Linked DNA regions of Homo sapiens. The protein of the gene in region 3 interacts with the protein of the main gene of each other region in a pairwise test. Each region holds a gene or a part of one and is shown on either strand. Other genes may lie near its edges.

What was found. Proteins that work in one complex are often made in the same cells at the same time.
Region 1: the proteins of DLST (region 3) and NLRP3 interact in binary tests that used the Homo sapiens proteins (3 or more experiments, as listed by UniProt).
Region 2: the proteins of DLST (region 3) and LGALS8 interact in binary tests that used the Homo sapiens proteins (3 or more experiments, as listed by UniProt).

The regions. Positions count from the first base shown.
Region 1 is NC_000001.11:247,419,152-247,426,182, reverse strand, and holds part of NLRP3 (NACHT, LRR and PYD domains-containing protein 3), read right to left. Parts: intron 2,954-7,031; coding exon 2,834-2,953; intron 2,337-2,833; coding exon 584-2,336; intron 1-583. UniProt on the Homo sapiens protein: Sensor component of the NLRP3 inflammasome, which mediates inflammasome activation in response to defects in membrane integrity, leading to secretion of inflammatory cytokines IL1B and IL18 and pyroptosis.
Region 2 is NC_000001.11:236,540,961-236,547,991, reverse strand, and holds part of LGALS8 (galectin-8), read right to left. Parts: intron 6,339-7,031; coding exon 6,282-6,338; intron 5,232-6,281; coding exon 5,205-5,231; intron 5,078-5,204; coding exon of another isoform or gene 4,952-5,077; intron 4,433-4,951; coding exon 4,344-4,432; intron 3,243-4,343; coding exon 3,077-3,242; intron 2,831-3,076; coding exon of another isoform or gene 2,771-2,830; exon of another isoform or gene 31-2,770; intron 1-30.
Region 3 is NC_000014.9:74,898,899-74,904,257, reverse strand, and holds the end of DLST (dihydrolipoyllysine-residue succinyltransferase component of 2-oxoglutarate dehydrogenase complex, mitochondrial isoform 1 precursor), read right to left. Parts: intron 4,336-5,359; coding exon 4,262-4,335; intron 3,970-4,261; coding exon 3,886-3,969; intron 3,193-3,885; coding exon 3,025-3,192; intron 2,063-3,024; coding exon 1,928-2,062; 3' UTR 515-1,927; downstream 1-514. UniProt on the Homo sapiens protein: Dihydrolipoamide succinyltransferase (E2) component of the 2-oxoglutarate dehydrogenase complex. The 2-oxoglutarate dehydrogenase complex catalyzes the overall conversion of 2-oxoglutarate to succinyl-CoA and CO(2).

The sequences.
Region 1 (7,031 bases), on a different chromosome or scaffold from region 3:
GTGTCTCTCTCCACTGTCACCTGCACACACTTTTTCTCAGACTGCATTCATGATTTGGCTCATACCAGTCTTCAGTGCAGAATTCCTTTAATTTCTTCTCTATGCGCCCAGGTCCCACCATTCCTTAAAGGAGGCTTAGATTGCACATTTCTAAGAAACATCCCCCCAGCCTCCAGCTCTGAGGCCCTCTGTCCCCTCGCTCCTGGGACACAGACTCTCTGGCATTGTTCTGCCCCACAGACATTGACTGACTCTTAGGCACTAGTGCTCCAAGTAGCTTACAAGAAATTTCAGTTGACAAATATTTGTAGGCAATCCTACATCCTACTTAATACCTTGTGCTAAACTGGCATTCCCCAAACATTTGTTCCTTGTTTTATTTTTTTTTTCCTCATCCCATTTATCCACCTACCATACATCAATCTTTGCTCATGAAGGAGTCTCAAACAGACAGTGGTGGCATTATGATGTAGCTGTGGCAACAGTATTTGGAAGATAGTTGAAAAGAGATGAGAGGAGGCAAGCGCCAAGAAGAAGCTGGCGAGGAAGCAGGAGGAAGCACCTGGAAGCCGAGTTTCCTTACCCATGAGAACAGGCAGCATGAGAGGAGCTTGGGAGGACACACTGCACCATATCAAGGTGTCGGCCTTCCTTTTCCTCCTCCTCTTCCTCCTTGGGCATGTTATGGAGAAACCCCAGGGACAGTGACTCCACCCGATGACAGTTCTCAATGCAAAAGGAAGAAACCATGTGGTCCATTCTGGTGGAGAGATTGATCTCAATCTTGGGGAAATAGTCCATGGCCCTTTGCACGAAGTCCTCCTCCTGCATCTCGTACAAACAGTAGAACAATTCCAGCTGGCTGGGCTGGATCTGCAGCTTTTTAGCTTTGGCTTTCACTTCAATCCATTTCAGCAGCTCCAGCCTGATTTGCTGAGAGATCTTGCAACTTAATTTCTTCTCCAAGTAGGAGGTCCTCTCCTGGTTTACCAGGCCAAAGAGGAAACGTACAACAAAAATCAAATACCCCTTTTCGAATTTGCCATAGTTTTCCAGAAGGACTGTCACGTCTCGGCTGGGAAGCTTCAAACGACTCCCTGGAACGTTCGTCCTTCCTTCCTTTTCCTCTTCCAGCAGGTAGTACATGGCGGCAAAGAACTCCTGGAAAGTCATGTGGATGAAGCTGTAGAACTTCTCGCAGTCCACTTCCTTTTGGAACAGGTTCATCCTCAGGAAAGCAGACACATCCGCCTTCTGCAGTCCATGATTCCTGAGGTCGGACTCCTCAAACAGGATTTTCTGGTTCCAGATTCCATCTGCAGCCAAAGAGCAGAGCCCCCAGAGGTGGGCGCAGAGGCCGTGCTCCTGGCTCCCTCCCCGGGGCTGCAGCAAACTGGAAAGGAAGAAGACGTACACCGCGGTGGTGGTCTTGGATGTCTGGGCAAGGCTCTTGCCACTCTCCATCTGCTGTTTCAGTCCAGTGCACACGATCCAGCAGACCAGGGGGATGAAGCACATGGTGAAGAGGACCTCGTTCTCCTGAATCAGACTGAAGGCTGCCCTGGCTTGGGCCTCATCAGAGAAGTACTTGAAGAAGTACTCTTTCCTTTTGGCCTCGGAGAAACCCAGGATCTCCACATGCCGAGGATGGTCCAGCAAGTGCTGCAGTTTCTCCAGGGCCACAGGTCTCGTGGTGATGAGCAGAGAGGCCTCGGGAAGCAGCTTCTTTCTGATGAGGCTGCTCAGGAGAATGTCTCCCCGCTCGGCCTTCTGCCAGTCAGTGCAGAGCGGTCCTATGTGCTCGTCAAAGGCACCTTGCAGCTCATCGAAGCCGTCCATGAGGAAGAGGATTCTGGAGGGTTTTCTCACGATCTTGTGGATGGGTGGGTTTGGGTCGGGGCAGCAGCTCATGATCAGGTCCCCCAGGCTCCTCTGTGTCACAAGGCTCACCTCTCGACAGTGGATATAGAACAGATAGTCAAACCTGTCTTGGTAGAGTGTCCCCGACGCCCAGTCCAACATCATCTTCCTGGCCAGGATTGTTTTCCCAATCCCTGCCGCCCCCTGGAACACCACGGTGTGCACAGGCTCAGAATGCTCATCATCGGGGTCAAACAGCAACTCCATCTTAATGGGACTCACGGGGCTCTCACACGTCTTGGTCTTGCCGATGGCCAGAAGCTCCTGCTCCCTCTCCTGCTGGCTCCGGTGCTCCTTGATGAGACGCAGTCGTGTGTAGCGTTTGTTGAGGCTCACACTCTCACCCAGACGGGCATTCCTGTCTTCAATGCACTGGAATCTGCTTCTCACGTACTTTCTGTACTTCTTACGGTAATCTACGGCAAAGACAGGAAGTTAGGGGGAAAGTATACACACATCCACCTGAGATGCGCTCTCAGCTGGGGCCTGTCATCGGAAGCGAGTGGTAACCGGAATGGAGAAATGGAAGGTGCAGCTCCTCCCCACTGGGTAGGAAAGGTGCCGAGAATCTCTGGTGTCAAGTTTTTAAGATACACAGCTGAGCAGAAGGCCCATCTCTATGTGTAGCTACCAGCCCAAAGATCATTTGAATCAATCTTATTCCTTTAAGTAATCTGCATCCTATGCCTTATCAAACTTGAAACGCTTAATCACCGCCGCTGGCTCTGGGACTGCAAGAGCCACACAAACATGAATTTGTTTCTTCAACTGACAATGGATTTCCTGAGACAGGCCTTTGCATTCCAAAGAGCAGGAACCTATAGTATGGCCAAGTTACCCAGCTGCTCAGCTTCCCAGAGCCTCCTGAACCAGGTCTTAAAACTCAACTAGAAGCACCACCCCAGTCGCTTACCTTTCTTCATTTTACAAATAGAGATTCTCGAAAGGTACTCCAGTAAACCCATCCACTCCTCTTCAATGCTGTCTTCCTGGCATATCACAGTGGGATTCGAAACACGTGCATTATCTGAACCTAAAAGGGAAAAAAAAGGTGTCAAAACCCAGAACTATTATCACAGAGGATGCAATTGAAACCTGGCCTAATATTTGGCATGAGAGAGGAGACCCCAAACATCCCCCAAATCAAAACATGGCTCTGAGTTGCAGAGGACAGGTATCCAGTCAAAAGTCTGGTTGGGAGCATTTCTGCACTCCTAGTTTCAAAACAACTTCTGCTGTCCACCTGCCAAGCATGTGTTCCCACTGTCCCCAGTCTCAGAATCTCTTCCTCAGGCCTGGAAATCAATCAGCAAACATGCGAAGCAGGCTAAGTTTCTTTTACCCTCGTTTGCTTTTGCCTGCCCCTGGCAGCCTGATTGTGAGGGCATCTCCAAGCTCTCCTATATCCCCAACACGGCTGTGGGCTAAGAAAGGTCACCCTTCCCTGACCGCAGTTCCCTGCAATCCATTTTACACACGTCTTCTATTGTCAAGTCTAGATGTCTGGTTCTTCAAGAGTGAGAACGACCAGTCTATTTCGTGCCTAATCTAGTGGTTGGGAATCCTGGCTGACTTTAGAATCACCCAGGAAGCTTTAAAAATATGGACTTCAGGACTGCACGCCCAGAGGTTCTTTTTCAGTCCCTCTGAGGTGAGGCCCAGGAACCATCACATACTAAAAGCTCCCAGGTGATTCCAACATGCATCTGTGTTGAGAATCACAAATCCAAACAGTCACTAGATAGCATATCTTAAGAAGGCATTCTATAGGAGAAATTCAGGTTAGGTAAAACAAGAGTTAGTCACTAGGGGAAATATATAAGACAGATAACTTCAGGTGGGCAGGAATCTACAAGTAACATAAATGATTTTTTTTTTTTTTTTGAGACAGGGCCTCACTCTATTGCCCAGGCTGGAGTGCAATGACACAATCATGGCTCCCTGCAGCCTCAACCTCCTGGGCTCAAGTGATCCTCCCACCTCAGCCTCCAGAACAGCTGGGACTATTGACACGTGCCACCACACCTAACTAATGTTTGCATTTTTTGTAGAGACAGGTTCTCACTATGTTGCCCAGGCTGGTCTCAAACTCCTGGGCTCAAGCAATCCTCCCATCTTGGCCTCCTGAAGTGCTGGGATTACAGGCATAAGCCACTGCGCCCAGCCCATAAAAGACCTCTGACAGCTGTCTACTTGGTAACCATATCACAAAATAAAATCCAAAAAATCTAAGCCAAAACCAAAATCTTATTCTTTTTTTTTAAGAGACAGAGTCTTGCTTTGTTTCCAAAGCTGGAGGGCAGTGGCATGGTCATAGCTCACTCCAGCCTGGAACTCCTGAGCTCAAGTGATGCACCCACTTCAGCCACCTGAGTAACTGGGACTCAGGTAGGAGCCATGACAGTAAATTAGCCAAAGTCTATTACCTAAAACCTAACCCCACCCCAGGAAACAAACAAACAAACTTCTAACCCTAGTTATAACTTTTCTGCCTCAAAATCCAGATATGGAAGCAAAGACGGTGTAGTGGTTAAGAGCCAGGCTTTGATCAGAGACATGCCCTGCTTTTTACCCCAGCTCTGGTTATGGCTAGAAATAAACCATGGGCCAGTTAGGATCTCTTCCAGGCTCACCTCATTCACTTGCAGGAGGGATAATACCAGAAGCTGTTTCATGGGTTTCTTGAATGTGCCATAAAATCCATAAAAACTGCTTAGCAAAGTACTTCTACAGTTGTGATTATGACACTTTCATTTGGGTATGTGAGTATATAAGTACTGACACAATGATAATTGCTTTATTTACTTAGAGATGAGGTCTCCCTATGTTGCTCAGGCTGGTTTTGAGCTCCTGGGCTCAAGCGATCCTCCTGCCTTAGCCTCCTGAGTAGCTGGGACTACAGGTGAGAGCCATTGCAGCAACTGGTTTCTGACCTCCCCCGGCTGCACACTGCTGTCTGTTTCCCCAGTGTCATTACACCCACACTGCTGCCCTGCCTTAACATGTGTCTCCCTATCCACTGACTCATTTGTACTCCTCCTTCCCATCACCACCAGCTCTACATCATCATCCTGCAATACCCTGCCCTTCTCTGAGCCCTACCTTTGCCTAGAACACAAGACAAAAGAAAGAACCTTATCCCCAATGTGTACATGGGGATTAAGAGAATTTCTTTTACATTCCAATTCCCAAAGTGGTGGTGAAAGGAAAGGCTTCTGCCCCAAACTCCACGGTTCTTCAAGGAGAGAGGCTGCCCTCTGGGCCATAGGAAGCAGAGGCCCAAGCCTGCTGACCACACAGCAGATACTGGACAAAACATGTGGTCTGAGAAGCTGGATGGAGAATTGGAGGCAGGTCTAGGCACTGCTGAGATTCAGATAAAGAGGGACTAATCATGGCAGGTGCCCAGGGGGTAGGTACAGTCTGCATCAGCTTTTTAAAGGAGTTAGAGAAAGCAAACAGTTTGCCTCCACCTTCTCATAGCACTACCGTGAGAGGGGAAAAGAGAAAAAACCAAGACAATACAAGAAAAAAAAATTTTTTTTTGAAACAGGGTCTTGCTCTTTAGCCCAGGCTGGAGTGCCGTGGTGCAATCTCAGCTCACTGCAACCTCCACTCCCCATGTTCAAGCAATTCTCCTACCTCAGCCTCCTGAGTAGCTGGGATTACAGGTGCCCACCACCACACCCGGCTAATTTTTTTTGTATTTTTAGTAGAGATGGGGTTTTGCCATGTTGGCCAGGCTGGTGTTGAACTCCTGACCTCAGGTGATCCACCCACCTCAGCCTCACAAAGTGCTGGAATTACAGGCATGAGCCACCATGCCCGGCCATGATTTAAAAAAAAAAAAATCATACTAACTTCTGTGCATCAAAGGACACAGTTAACCAAATGAAAAGACAACCCACAGAATAGGAGAAAATATTTGTAAATCATATATCTGATATGGGGTTAATATCTAGAATACATAAAGAACTCCTACAAGGCAACAACAAAAGCCAAACCTGGTCTGAAAATGAGAAAAGAACTTGAACAGAACTTTCTCTGAAGAAGCTCTATAAATGGCCAACAAGCAGTGAAAATGTGCTCAGCATCACTTATCATTAGGGAAACGGAAATCAAAACTACAGTGAGATACCACCTCACACTCATTAGAATGGCTACTATAAAAAAGAAAAAATAAATAAAAATAACGTGTTCTTAGGATATGGAGAAATTGGAACCCTTGTGTGCTGTTGGTGGGAAATGGTGCAGATGGTATCTAAAACAGTAGAGCAGTTCTTCAAAATATTTAACAGAATTACCGTATGATTCAGAAATTTCACTTCTGAGTATATACCCCAGAGAATTCAAAGCAGGGTCTTGAAGAGATATTTGTGCACCAACACTCATAACAGCATTAACAATAACAAAAAGGTAGAAGTAATCCAGGTGTTCATCAACAGATAACTAAACAAAATTTGGTATATGGTACCATGGAGTATTTATACAGTCTTTTTTAAAGGAAGGGAATTCCGACACATGCTACAACATAGTTGAACCCGGAGGACATTATGCTGAGTGAAATAAACTACTCATAAAGGAAAAAATGCTGTATGTTTCCACTTATATGAGGTACCCAGAGTAGTAAGATTCACAGAGATGGCAAATAGAATGGTGGTTACCAGGGCTGGGAGAATGAGGCAATGAGGAGTTATCATTCAATGGGTGAGGAGTTTCAGTTTTGCAAGATGAAAACAGTTCTGGAGACTGGTTGCACAATGTGAGTGTACCTAACACTACTGAACTGTACATTTAAAAATTATTACGGCCGGGCGCGGTGGCTCACACCTGTAATTCCAGCACTTTGCGAGGCCGAGGCGGGTGGATCACCTGAGGTCGGGAGTTTGAGACCAACCTGACCAACATGGAGAAACCCCATCTCTACTAAAAATACAAAATTAGCCGGGCGTGGAGGTGCAATGCCTGTAATCCCAGCTACTTGGGAGGCTGAGGCAGGAAAATCGCTTGAACCCGGGAGGTGGAGGTTGCAGTGAGCCAAGATCTCACCATTGCACTCCAGCCTGGGCAACAAGAGCAACTCCGTCTCAAAAAAAAATATATATATATAT
Region 2 (7,031 bases), on a different chromosome or scaffold from region 3:
CCATTAGTGGTTCCCCTTAGTTTAAAATTTTGTGTTTGTTACATGCTAACGGTGTCAGAGTAAACCATTTGATTATACATAGAAAAGTTCCAGCCTGCTGCTGCTGACTTCCTTCTGACTTCCAAGACCCTAATCTAACTAAAGTGTCCCTGGTGGTGGCACTGTCTGCCTCATCCCACCCAGGGAAGTGACTCGGACATGTTTGGAGCCTCACACCATCCCCAGGGCCTGCGGCCCTCCTTTCCTCAACACAGCCCCTCTCCCTCGGCCGCATCCTGCCCCTTGCTCCTGGAAAGCCAGAGTGCTGCCCCTCCTCGCCGATGCTGGGGACTCTCCTAAAGCAGGAAAACTCACTCCTAATATGGTTGCTTTAGTTCACCGAGATGCTGTTTCCAGCTGTAGCCTGGAACCAAGGGACTTGGATCCTGACTGACTTTTCTGCCTCAAACTCTAGGACCATGAACAAACCAGACAATTAATATGAAATTTCAGCAGCTTAAGGCACTTGCTAGGGTTTTTACAGCTGCTTGGTGATCCTGATCCTGATAAGCTCAGCACATCTTGGCCTCAGTGTGTTTGTCCAAAGCCGTCAAAGCTGGGTATCCCGTAAGTTGGAAGTGGTGCACATACTACAAATTCAGATCCATCGGCAGTGTTCGCCCTTCACAGTCATCTATGCCCAAAACTCAAACAATGAAAAACCAAAAAACCTACTAGCCTTTTACATCACCTTTACACCTACACTTCATACTTCTGGTGCCACGCTGCCAGTGCCAGGCTGGGTTTCCACCCACTCTGAGAAGGCCACTGGGAGGCCCTGCACTGAGCTCTCCCTGTGCTCCTCGCCCCCATGAAGGCTTCAGAAGAAAGAGGGGCAGCTCAGCCTTGCTGCTAACCCGGCCCCACCCCGAGAGGCCAGAATGAAGCACAAAACCTGAATCTGCAAAGCAGCAAGTTGAGGGTTTCCATTCTTTTGATAGGAGCAGTGGAAAGGACTGTCAAGGAAAATCAGGAAGGGGAGGAAATTTCAGCCCAAGTCCTGCACTCTGATAACAGCTGGCCAAGATGAAGCTTCTGTGGCTACAGAGGATTGGGGAAATAGGTGTAACCTGAGATTCTATCCCCACAAGAATGGTGGGAATCCCAGTTCCAACCAGGTAGAAGGGACCCCAGATATATTTAACAAAATCTCAAGAAAACACAAAACACACAGCCTGATGCTATAGCTCAGAAGGAAAACCAAGTTGGCAGCAGAGGGAGTCAATTAGTTACCTGTACTGTATCAGAGCAAGTGCAAAGCCAGTGAATTACAAGCAAGTGGCAAAGAAATGACATGCTTCCGGGTGAGCAGACTACTGCAAATGAAAAGAAGGCACATCCTTTGCCTAGAAGAAAACAGAACAACAGAATCCCTCACAACCATCTGATGCTGCCGAACAGCTGGAACACGGATTTCATCCAGAGGAAGAGCCCACAGATGAAATTACAACACTGAATGAGATTGTTTTTAAAAAACTGTAGATACAACTAAAGTGTATTTGAAAGAGCAAGAAGATTTAAAATGAAAGTAATGGCATAATGGAAAGACCTGAGATAATCTCAATGCAAGCATATTTAAAAGGCAAGAGATGGAAGCCCCCGGAAAGGACCTATCAGTATAGAAAATCGTCAGCAGTGATCAACACAAGGATAATTACTGCTCCTGAATTAGAAAATTAAATGGAAAAGACGATTGTTCAAAAGCATATAACATTCATCTATTCATTCCTTCAGCCAGCCATCCCTTTCACTGTCTCTGCAAAAAAATGCCTGGAATGTGGTTCACCTAATCCTAATGGTATGGTTTGAATTATGAAGTTGGAGGTATTTTCATCTTAGTATTTTTCAGCATTATTTGAATGTATCATTATTATCCTTTTTTATATTAATATAGCAGATCCAAACTTGGGGCCCAGATAGGTCAAAAACAAGTTACATCATTGGTTTCCTGTCACCCACCACAAGGCTCAACTTCCTTCTAGAGCACTCACCTCTGTTTCCCTCCAGTGAACCCCAAGTCACCCTTTGCGCCTTGACTCTTGCCAAGCTAACAACCCTGTGCTGCCCTTCCCACCTCTAAGGACTTGTTCAAATCATGCCCTAAATCTAGAAAAGCCAACCTTCAGCCTTCCACATCCTTCCCAGCTTTCTGAATTCCAAACCAATATCCACAACTTCAGGGAACCTTCCATGATTAGCCCACATCTGTCTACACTCCACATACCAGGGCACTGCATTAGACTGGAACTTAGGGATAAATATGAATGTCACATTGCTATCTATTCCGCCTGATATTCATGCTTTTAGTAACGAGTTTTGATGAGTCCTCAAGAACCCACATGGTCCAGACAATGTGTCAGTTTAAAATGCTGTAGAATGATAACCTAAACCAATGACCCTAAGTGACTGTGTGAGGCAGTGGCACCTGAGCTGGTGATTGAGGCTGGCCAAACACCCGGCATCCGCATCACAAGGAGACTATTCTCTGCTCAGCATCCCAGAAACATATTTCGGGAAAGGTATGTGTTACAATATTCACCTATCTGGGGACTCAGGACTGCATGCCTTTTAGTTCCAAGGGACTGATGTATTTTTCCTTGAATACATACAAACAAGACTAACTCCTTAGGAGAAAGGACTGCCACCTGAAACCGTCTACCCTGATGGGAGATGATGGCCAGTGCAAGCAAGCAGTTTTAGGGTCTCCACGTCCTCAAGTCTGCTTATATGATTAAATGTGTGACTCCAGTCCTGAGACAAGCTTCCTGGTTAAATTCCTATCAATATGGGGCTACACAGGAATTTTAATATGATGACAAATGTCAATTCCAATGTGCATAATTTGACACTCTACTGGCTTTGCCATTTATACTGATTGCCCACGTTATAAAAAGGGGCAAATTACAATCTCCAAGTAAACAAAAAACATACACAACTTCCACATACTGAGTTAGGACTTGATTTAAATGGACCACTTATCCCACCCCTGCTCCCAGGATTCTTATTGCTGTCCCATTTTCAAAAACTGTAACCTCACCTCAAAGTACATCCCAGGACTAAATGGGAAAGAGGTAATATTTCTCTCTTCTTCTCCCCAGGACTCCTGAAGAAAAGAATTTCTTACAAATGCTTTAATATTCAGGCGTGGGTTCAAGTGTAGAGCAATATCCTTTGATTTTCCTGCTAGTAGGTCAACATTAAAGCTTTTGAGAAAGAAAGAAAAAAAAAAACCTTAATTAACCAAGTAGGACAGAGTAGTGGCAATTTCAGCAATGTTAGTGACCAGACTTGAACTATGATTCTAACTCTATGAAACACACGTATCCACATGGACATGGGAATGCAGGTGAAGTTGAAATTTTAAACCCAGTCAGCATTCCACTAATTCGTTACTTGCAAAATAAAAATACGAAAAAAAAAACCCTTTAAAATCAGCGTTGAGGCTGAGATGTGGTTGGACAGAAATGGAAGGTTTAACGCTAAACTGAATGACTACTTCAGGCTGCAGGAGCCTGGGATCCTCTCAAGCAGGTATTCTCTTTTCATCATCTACCCGTGTTCCTTCCTTCTTGAAAGTATGCCACTTTCTAGGAAATAGCTCTAATTTCAAGCTTTCAGAAGGCTGGACGTCTGTGGAAAAAGTTGTTAAAGCAGAAATTTTCTAAATCACATGACAAGAGGGGCCCTAAAAAATGTTGCCTGGGCTGGGCGTGGTGACTCACACCTGTAATCCCAGCACTGGGAGGGCGAAGTGGGCGGATCACTTGAGGTCAGGAGTTCCAGACCAGCCTGGCCAACATGGTGAACCCCTGTCTCTACTAAAAATACAAAAATTCAAAAAGTAGCTGGGCGTGGTGGTGCGCCTGTAATCCCAGCTACTCCAGAGGCTGAGGTAGGAGAATGGCTTGAACACCCAGGAAGCGGAGGTTGTGGTGTGCTGGGATTGTGACACTGCACTCCAGCCTGGGTGACACAGTGAGGCTCCATCTCAAAAAAAAAAAAGAAAAGATGTTGCCTGATCTTACGGGGCTGCTCTGGAGTTCTACAAGGCAAGGATAGGCCTCGTGGACAAAAATGCTACTCTCTTGTCTGGCCAGAAAAAGCCGAGGTCAGAACACGGCCTTAGTCGGCTCTGCTGCCCACTGGCTGTTCACAATCTAACCACCTCCTGCTTGAATCATCTCACTTTGGAAATGAAGATTCTGACGCTAGCCCTTCTTCCAGCTCACAGGACCGTTCACGGGTGGAAGGCGGTAACAGGCACGGAAGTATCTGCACTGTGACTGGTACCGAAGGATACTGACCTTTTGGCATTTGCATTCACTTCTCCTTTAACGACGACAGTTCGTCCAGGGCCCATGGGGGTGTTCAACCTTGCAGCGAATGGCAGCCTCTGAAAAGAAGCCACAGTCAGGACCAAGAGGCCTGCAGAAAGCGATCTCCAGGGAAAACTCGTGTCCAAAGAACACTACGGAATGTTTCAGAGCCATGACCCTGTAAATCCCAGGAGGGGAGAGACAGTCTGCCTTGGTCCCAGCTGGGTCCCCTGCAGCAGCACTGTCCCTGGCTCGAAGCAAACACACATGATTACATTTTAGACGATGAAATGAGTGACAGGGTGGGACCCGATGCCCTCTGTATGAGTGAAACACGCCAGGAAGGCCCCCTGTGCCTGGGGTCTGAGGCAGTACTGTGTTCTGCCTGAAGGGGAAGCAGCCAAGCAGGGAGGTGCTGAGGAAATACACAGGAATGGCTCAGAGGCAGGCCTGGTTGACTCTCGAATCCGTCCAGGGACGGCACACAAATGCAGAGGGGGCTGCTTTGGGCCTCTATTGTGGATACAGGTTACTCGTAACAGCTCATTACAACTTAATTTTTATATAGAGTTAAGAAAATTTGGTGCTCTTCAAACCTTTGACACATAGTTCATAGGTGGTATTTTGGTGCAAGTCAAAGTGTGATTGACAGTCGAATCTTTGCTCTTGGTGTAGACAGTTCTGGGTGCGATTTTAGAAATGTCTCCTCCTCTATTACTAGGCTGTAGGGAAACAGTTCTACAGTAAGGAATGGAATGAATGAAGCTGCCCTCCACGGTTTAAACTGTTCATTTTCTATGCAACTTTATAAAATATTCCACATGAAATAACCCAGGCAAAAATACTCACAAGCTGGGGCGTGCCAGACTTTGGAACCTATTGGAAAAGAAACAAAACACAACAATGTTAGAAGGGGAAGAATTATAGTTTATAATCTGAAGTCTTGGTTGTGCTGAGCTGAGCCTGGCCGGAGCCTGGGATGTTCCTGCTCCACTCTGGTGTGACCTCCAGGCAGCTGGTGCTTTATGACGGAATGGTATGGTGTTGTGAAGGGCTACACGGGTTGAGAAGAGAGTCTGATATCCCTGTTCATCTGAGTCCTTTATCCTCCACCATAAATTAATAATTTTTCATAGAACTATATGAAATTTTTTTAAGAGACAGGGTCTTACTCTGTCATCCACACTGGGATGCAGTGGCTCAATCATGGCTCACTGCAGCCTCAACCTCCTGGGCTCAAGTCATCCGCCTACTTCAGCCACCCAAAGCTGGGATCACAGCCATGCGCCACCATGCCCAGATAATTTTTTAATTTTTTGTAGAGATGGGGTTCTCCCTATGTGGCCCAGGCTGATCTCAAACTCCTAGGCTCAAGCAATCCCCCCACCTCAGCCAAAGCGCTGGGACTACAGGCCTGAGCCACCACCTTCACCCAGCACTACATGAACTTCAAACGTGTCTTAGTTGTCCTTTCCAGGGTGCCCCCAGAATGCTAAGATTCTGTTCTGTCTGTGAGGTGTGAACGTGCCAGTCGGTAAGACCTCACTTTCTCCATTAATAACAGCGCATTTTTAAATTGCAGTTATTCTCCCAGGGGTTGAAGATACACATGGAAGTTCATTTGCCAGTGCACTGGCTGATGTTCAATATTTGGAAATACCCCAGAACAGTACTATTCAGCAGTTAAGAGTGAGAGAGTGCTTTTTACATAAGAACAGTGAGTGGCAGTTACAGAAACTGACAGGTGAATCATCAGCAAAAACTTACTGCGTGCCTGGCACCACAAGTATGTATCTCAATTTTCAAGTGATTACTTGCGTTCTAAAAGCATAATTTTCAAAAACCCAGCCTTCTTGCCATTTCATTAACATGGCAGCTAAAACAACATTTTTAAACCAGTGGCTCATTAAAAGATTTAATATTTACATTTTCTCTACTTATCTCTGTCAGTTCCAGACTAGATGCTTGGGTACTTTGTAAGTCCTGAGAAAAGATAATAAAGATTAATTTGTAACATCCAGTAGAAAATATTTTCTAAATATTTTATATTGACATATAAAAAAATTATAAATGGTACTAAAAATATGCTTGAAAACTATGATCCAAAAATACACTTGACACTGTGGTCCTTTCCGCCCCCCATCAGATTGGCAAACATTACAGAGAATAAGATGTAATGTCAGCAAGAAGGTGGGAGCATGGCTGTTGAGAGTGCAAACTGTTTTTACCCTTGTGAAGGGCGAGTTAGTATCTATCAAAATTTTCAATGCAAAGACAGTCATGTGTTGCTTAACGAAGGGGGTATGTTCTGAGAAATGTGTCCTTACATGACTTTTGTCATCGTGCAAACATCACAGAATATTACTTAACAACCTTAGATGGTACTGCCAACTACACACCTAGGCTGTAGGGTGTGGCCTATAGCTCCTGGCCAGTGAATCTGTACAGCAGGCACTGTACCAAATACTGTAGGCAACCAGAGCAGGATGGTAAGTATTTGTGCATATAAACTTACCTAAACATAGAAAAGGTATGGTAAAAATACAGTATATGACAATCTTATGGGACCACGGTTGTATATGTGGTTCATCTTTGACTGAACTGTCCTTATGCAACACATGACTGTGCTCTTTGACTCAGGCACTCCCAGCCTAGGAACCTGTCTTACAGAAATAC
Region 3 (5,359 bases):
TCCTTTCTATTGATTCCAGGTCTTTAGATAATAACTCTTTCAACCAATTGCCAATCAGAAAATCTTTGATTCTGCCTATGACAACATCCCCAGGTCTTGAGCTGTCCTGCCTCTCCAGACCAAACCACTGTACATCTTACATGTACTGACTGGTATCTTATGTCTCCCTAAAATGTATTAAATGTATAAAACTAAGTTGTAGCCAGACGACCCTGGACACATGTTCTCAGGATCTCCTAAGAGTTGTATCACAGGCCATCAGTCACTCACACTTGGCTCAGAATAAATCTCTTCAAATATTTTTACAGAGGTTGACTCTTTTTGGCAACACTTTCCCGGCTGGCAGTCAGGGTTCTACCTTCTGTCAAATTATGAGTGTTAAGTTCCACATAAGGGATTTCTGATTTCACAAAATAAGCAACAGGACCTTGAGTGGCTTTCAATAATTTCAGTGCAACAGTGCTGGGGACTTGTACCACCTCAGTAGCCAAAAGGAACAGATACAGGAACCCTGTTTGAGAATATCTGCCCTTTAATTTGCATTTAAAATCAGTTTCTTTAAATACTTTAGTTACAAGTTCTGAATAGTGAAGACAGAGTAGTAGATGCTGCAGGCACTCAGTATTGGCTCCCACCCCTTCCCCCCTCCCCCACCCCCAGGCCTCACTTCTTGGCTTAAGATACAAAAGGGCACTCTCTACTGGCCCTGGTGTCAAACGTCAGCAGCCTCAGGCCTGGATGCAGTTGGATACAAAGCCATGAATCCCAGTGGCTCCAAGGAATTCCAATGATTGTGCCCAGATCCACGGGCAACACACCTTAGAAATGACCTCATCCGTTTCACCACTAGGTACTAACACCCTCAGGGTGGTTTCCTACCCCAGTCCACGTCCTCCAGATCTGTGTCCTGCAGAGGAAGAGACAAGGCCCCGCTATAACGCAGGAAGGAACAAAAACTGCCTCCTCAGCCCAGGTGCTTACAGCAACTTAACTGAAAAGCTCAAGGCAATGTGAGTCAGTCTAGAGGAGACCTCCCTTCCCTAGTCTCTACCAGGCTCTGGCCCTTCCTCGGGACCACGCTTGGTCCCACTGCCATGATGTGCTAGAATCTGCTCTAAGAACAAGGTGCTAGAATGAGGCCCAGCAACCAGCAAAGGGGTTGGAAAGGGTTGCTACAGCCCCAGCTGTGTGAGATTGTGCCAAGACGAGTCTTCTTGGTGTCAGCCTATGATGGAGAGCGTGAGGGCAGGCCTGGGCTCTCCTTCTATGATGATTACAATGCATGACCTCAGGGGACCTCTGCCCTCTCCTCCCACTCACACACCCAGATCCCCTGGCCTGTGCTTCCTGGAAGAGGTAGAAGAGGCATCTTGAAGTCAATGACAACGGAGAATGAAGGTGCCATTGAAGAAGCAAAGCAGCACCTCTTTGCCTGTGTTCAATCCCTCCACACAAGTGGAATCAAGGGAGAATGTGCACAGCCAGGACAGAGGCTGCTCTGAGCTTGGGAGGCACAGCATCCTCCTAGAAGTCTCTGCAGAACAAACTTTCAAAAGATAGGAACTTAATCACATGGTCCCCAGGGGTTTCTCTATAGTATACCAGCACTAGGGAAAAGCAAAATCATCTTTGCAGAGAGCTGATGGAAGAAAGGCAGGAATATGAATGAGCATCCATTAAGGCTCTCTCTCTTAAGCCTAAGGAATTAAGATATTCGAGGCTATGAGACAGGTGCAGAGAGGGAGAGCCTGGCAGGAACGCCAAGAAAAGACCTGTGACTGCTGGTTACACAGTGCTCTGCTTCCTTGCTTGAGGCCAACAGCATGTGTCTGCCTGTCACCAGGCTAACCCGGGACCCATGAGGGGACAGGGAGAAGACTGGTTTTCAGTTCCTGCATGATCAACTTGTAGGGTGTGTGGGTTCCTCCTAAAGATCCAGGAGGAGGACTCTGGGATCCTCTACCGCTGCCTTGATTTTGCGGAGGAAAGTCACAGCCTCTCTGCCATCAATCAGCCGGTGATCATAGGTCAGTGCCACGTACATCATGGGCCGCACCTCTACCTACAGAGAGGAAAGGTAAATAGGTTTGTCTCCAGCAAGCCACAGCCAGCCTCGCTGAAGGAGATTTAGCACAGCCCATAAGAAAGTTCCTAATTCCAGAGCCTTTCCTATTGATGTTGCCTCTGCATATTTACAGTATTTCAAAGACCAGGACTTACCCTCAGTGCAAAGCTTCCCCACTCAGAAACAAAGTTTGCCAAGAAAACTGTCTTCTCACAACTGCCTTTTATTTTTTAAAAACATACTCTGCCCTCTAACGCATCTGCTGCCTACAAGGAAAGTTTTCCCTTCAGTTCTGGCTGCCTGTACTTGCTTCTCTCTGGGGTTAGAATTTAAAAAAAAAAAAAAAAATTAAGCCAGGGTCTACAAATTCTGGAATTGTATGTGTAGCTGGGTGTATGGGCATTTTCCAGGAAGATCTACAGACTGTGGTTTCACACAGGAGTCAGTAACCCAAAAGGATTCTAAACACAGGAGTTCCCAGAAAGCTTTTTTGATACCAACGTATCTTCTAAGGGCCAGCTCAAGCCCCTTTTAATACTTAATTCTCTGAACTCCCGGGAAATTTACAAGCTTTATCATACAACTTGGCAGCTCACAGACTGACATGCATAATTGTCATCTGTTTCCCAGGGGCAAGGGACCACGTTTCCAACTATATCCCCCACTCCATAGAAGCAAACAAGCCTCCTCAGCTCAGTGGTTCTCAAACTTGAATATGCATCAGGATCATCTGCACTTCTTCTTTAAGTCTGGGATGGGGTCTAAGAATATGCATTTCTAATAAGGTCCCAGATGATGCTGATCCAGACCACAATTTGATAATCAGTGCCTTAGCTATTAGAAACTAAGAAATGGAACTTAGGCCTGAAATTATAGTTAATGTTTTACAATTAGCATTTAGTTGGATTTCCCTTTCATCGAGACCTAGCCACTAGGACCTTAGAAGTGACGGTTCCTACCTTGCCTCCTATAGCCACTGGCCTGTCAAAGATGCCATGCATCCCCAGGATGGCAGACTGAGGGGGGTTGATAATGGGTGTTCCAAAGAGCGAGCCAAAAACGCCTCCATTGCTAATGGTGAAGGTACCGCCATCCATATCTTCAATGGCAAGTTCATTCTTTCGGGCCTAAAAACAGATTTCATAATTGAAATATCAAGCCAACCCAGTTTCCTTCACCTAAAGTCAGTCCATAATCCCAGCGCTTTGGGAGGCCGAGGCAGGAGGACTGCTTGAGGCCAGGAGTTCAAGGCCAACCTGGGCAACATAGTGAGACCCCCATCTGTATAAAAAACTTAAGAATTAGCCAGGCATGGTGGTGCACACCTGTAGTCCCAGCTACTTGGGAGGCTGAGGCAGGAGAATCGCTTGAGCCCAGGAGTGCAAGGCTGCAGTAAGCTATGACTCTACCACTCTACTCCAGCCTGGGCAACACAGCGAGACCCTGCCTCTAAAAACAAAAAAGCAAAGGAAGTCCAGAAAGCTTGTATCGAGATCGATGGCACAAGCGCTAGCTTCCGTGTGACAGTTGTTCGGCTAAGGTGTCTATGACCAGTGCTCCACCAGAGAAAAGGCACAATTTCATACAGTTGAAGACTTCAAAGATGATCTTTTCTAGCAGGTCTCATCTGATGAGATTTCAGTTACCAGAGCATGGTAAACTCCACCAGATATATAAAATACTTAGCTCTCATGGGCAACTGCTTTTCTCAGGGGCTATGCACTTGACTTTCCATGAGCACTGCTTGCTAGTGAGCCCAGCCTTCTGAAGGCTCTCTTCCCTCGCCTGCTTAGCAGCTTGTATACATCTTTCTACTTTACCTTCTCTCCCAGTTCAGTGATGGTCCGTTCAATATCTGCAAAATTCATAGCTTCCACATTCCTGATGACTGGAACCACCAGACCCTGAAGGGGGTGAAAAGCTGTTTTCAGTTGCAAATTAATAGTACCTTTTATAGTTAACAACTCCCTTGATTCAACCCATGGTATGCCCTCCCTAGAATACCTTCATTACTCAGTGTGATTAACAGAAAGTGTTAAAAGAATGCGGCATGGTTTAAAAGAAAAAAAAGGTTACTTTTACTAACTCCCTTCTAAAAATACAGAATTAAAGAAATGATTTCTCTTGTGTGATCTCCTTCACACAGATAAGGTGAGGGTCTAAGACCAACATTCCCCACCTCCTGCCCCAACATACCCGTGGGGTGGCCACTGCAACACTGATGTCAATATAATCCCTATACACCACCTCTTTGGTTGTGTCGTCAATCACTATGAGAGAGAAAATACATGTTACATACAACTCCCCAGGAAGGCCAAGACTAATGAGGTAATATGTGCATTAACAGAGTAAAAATCTGCAGAGCTTGATACAGTGTGGGCTGACCAACCACCATGAACACCACTGCATTATGCATGGCAGCTGGCATTCCACTTACTCCCATCCCAAGTATAGTATCTCCCAAGTCCCTGACTGAGCCTGGGCATAGGAGCATCCATTTCTTTGGCAGCCCTAAGAAGGGCTCAACACACTGGCTTCCATAGGATAGGTATGCACTAAACTCTCGTTAAGTAGCTCTAGTCAAGCCCTCCTTTAGCAGAGAATGACTAGGGTTAACAAATGTTCCAAAAAAGGGCAAATTAGCAAAGGAAAAGGGATATAGAGATACTACCCATTCTCTGCTTCCAACTCTCAACAAGAGGAAGAGGGGAGATCCAAGAGTAAGCGGGGTGATCTGGCTTTGAAATATGCTACCTCAAGAGATGGCAAACCAGCATCTGAAAATGTACACCTAGCAACTAATGGGAAAATAAAGGCTTGGGAATCATTTCCGCAGAAAGTCCATGTTGTATTGTTAGATAAGACATCCAGAGGAAGCATGTAATGTGAAAAAGAGGCCACGAGAACTTTTGAGAGCCGCCTACATGTGTGGGCAAGCAGAAGGGGGCCACTGAAAAAGATGAGAGCCAGTCAGGGAGGCATGAGAAGAATGGGAAAAAGAAGAGGTATACATTTGGGCAAAACAAAGATGGCCTTCTACCTCCCTAGAGCACCACTCAACAGGAGGGACTAGGGCTTCTACTTCTAGACCTTTAGGGCCCCTGACACTGCTGAGGATGGCAAAAGTAGCACTGACCCCTCTCCAATCTCCCAAGGAACAGAGAAGTGTGTCAACAGGAAAACAAAGTGCTTGTTAGGTCAACACTACAATGACGTAGGTAAGTAAAAAGGAAAGAAAATAAGCACCAGGTCCATGAGAGGCCAAGCCGAAGCTCCCAGTGAGGCCCATCGACC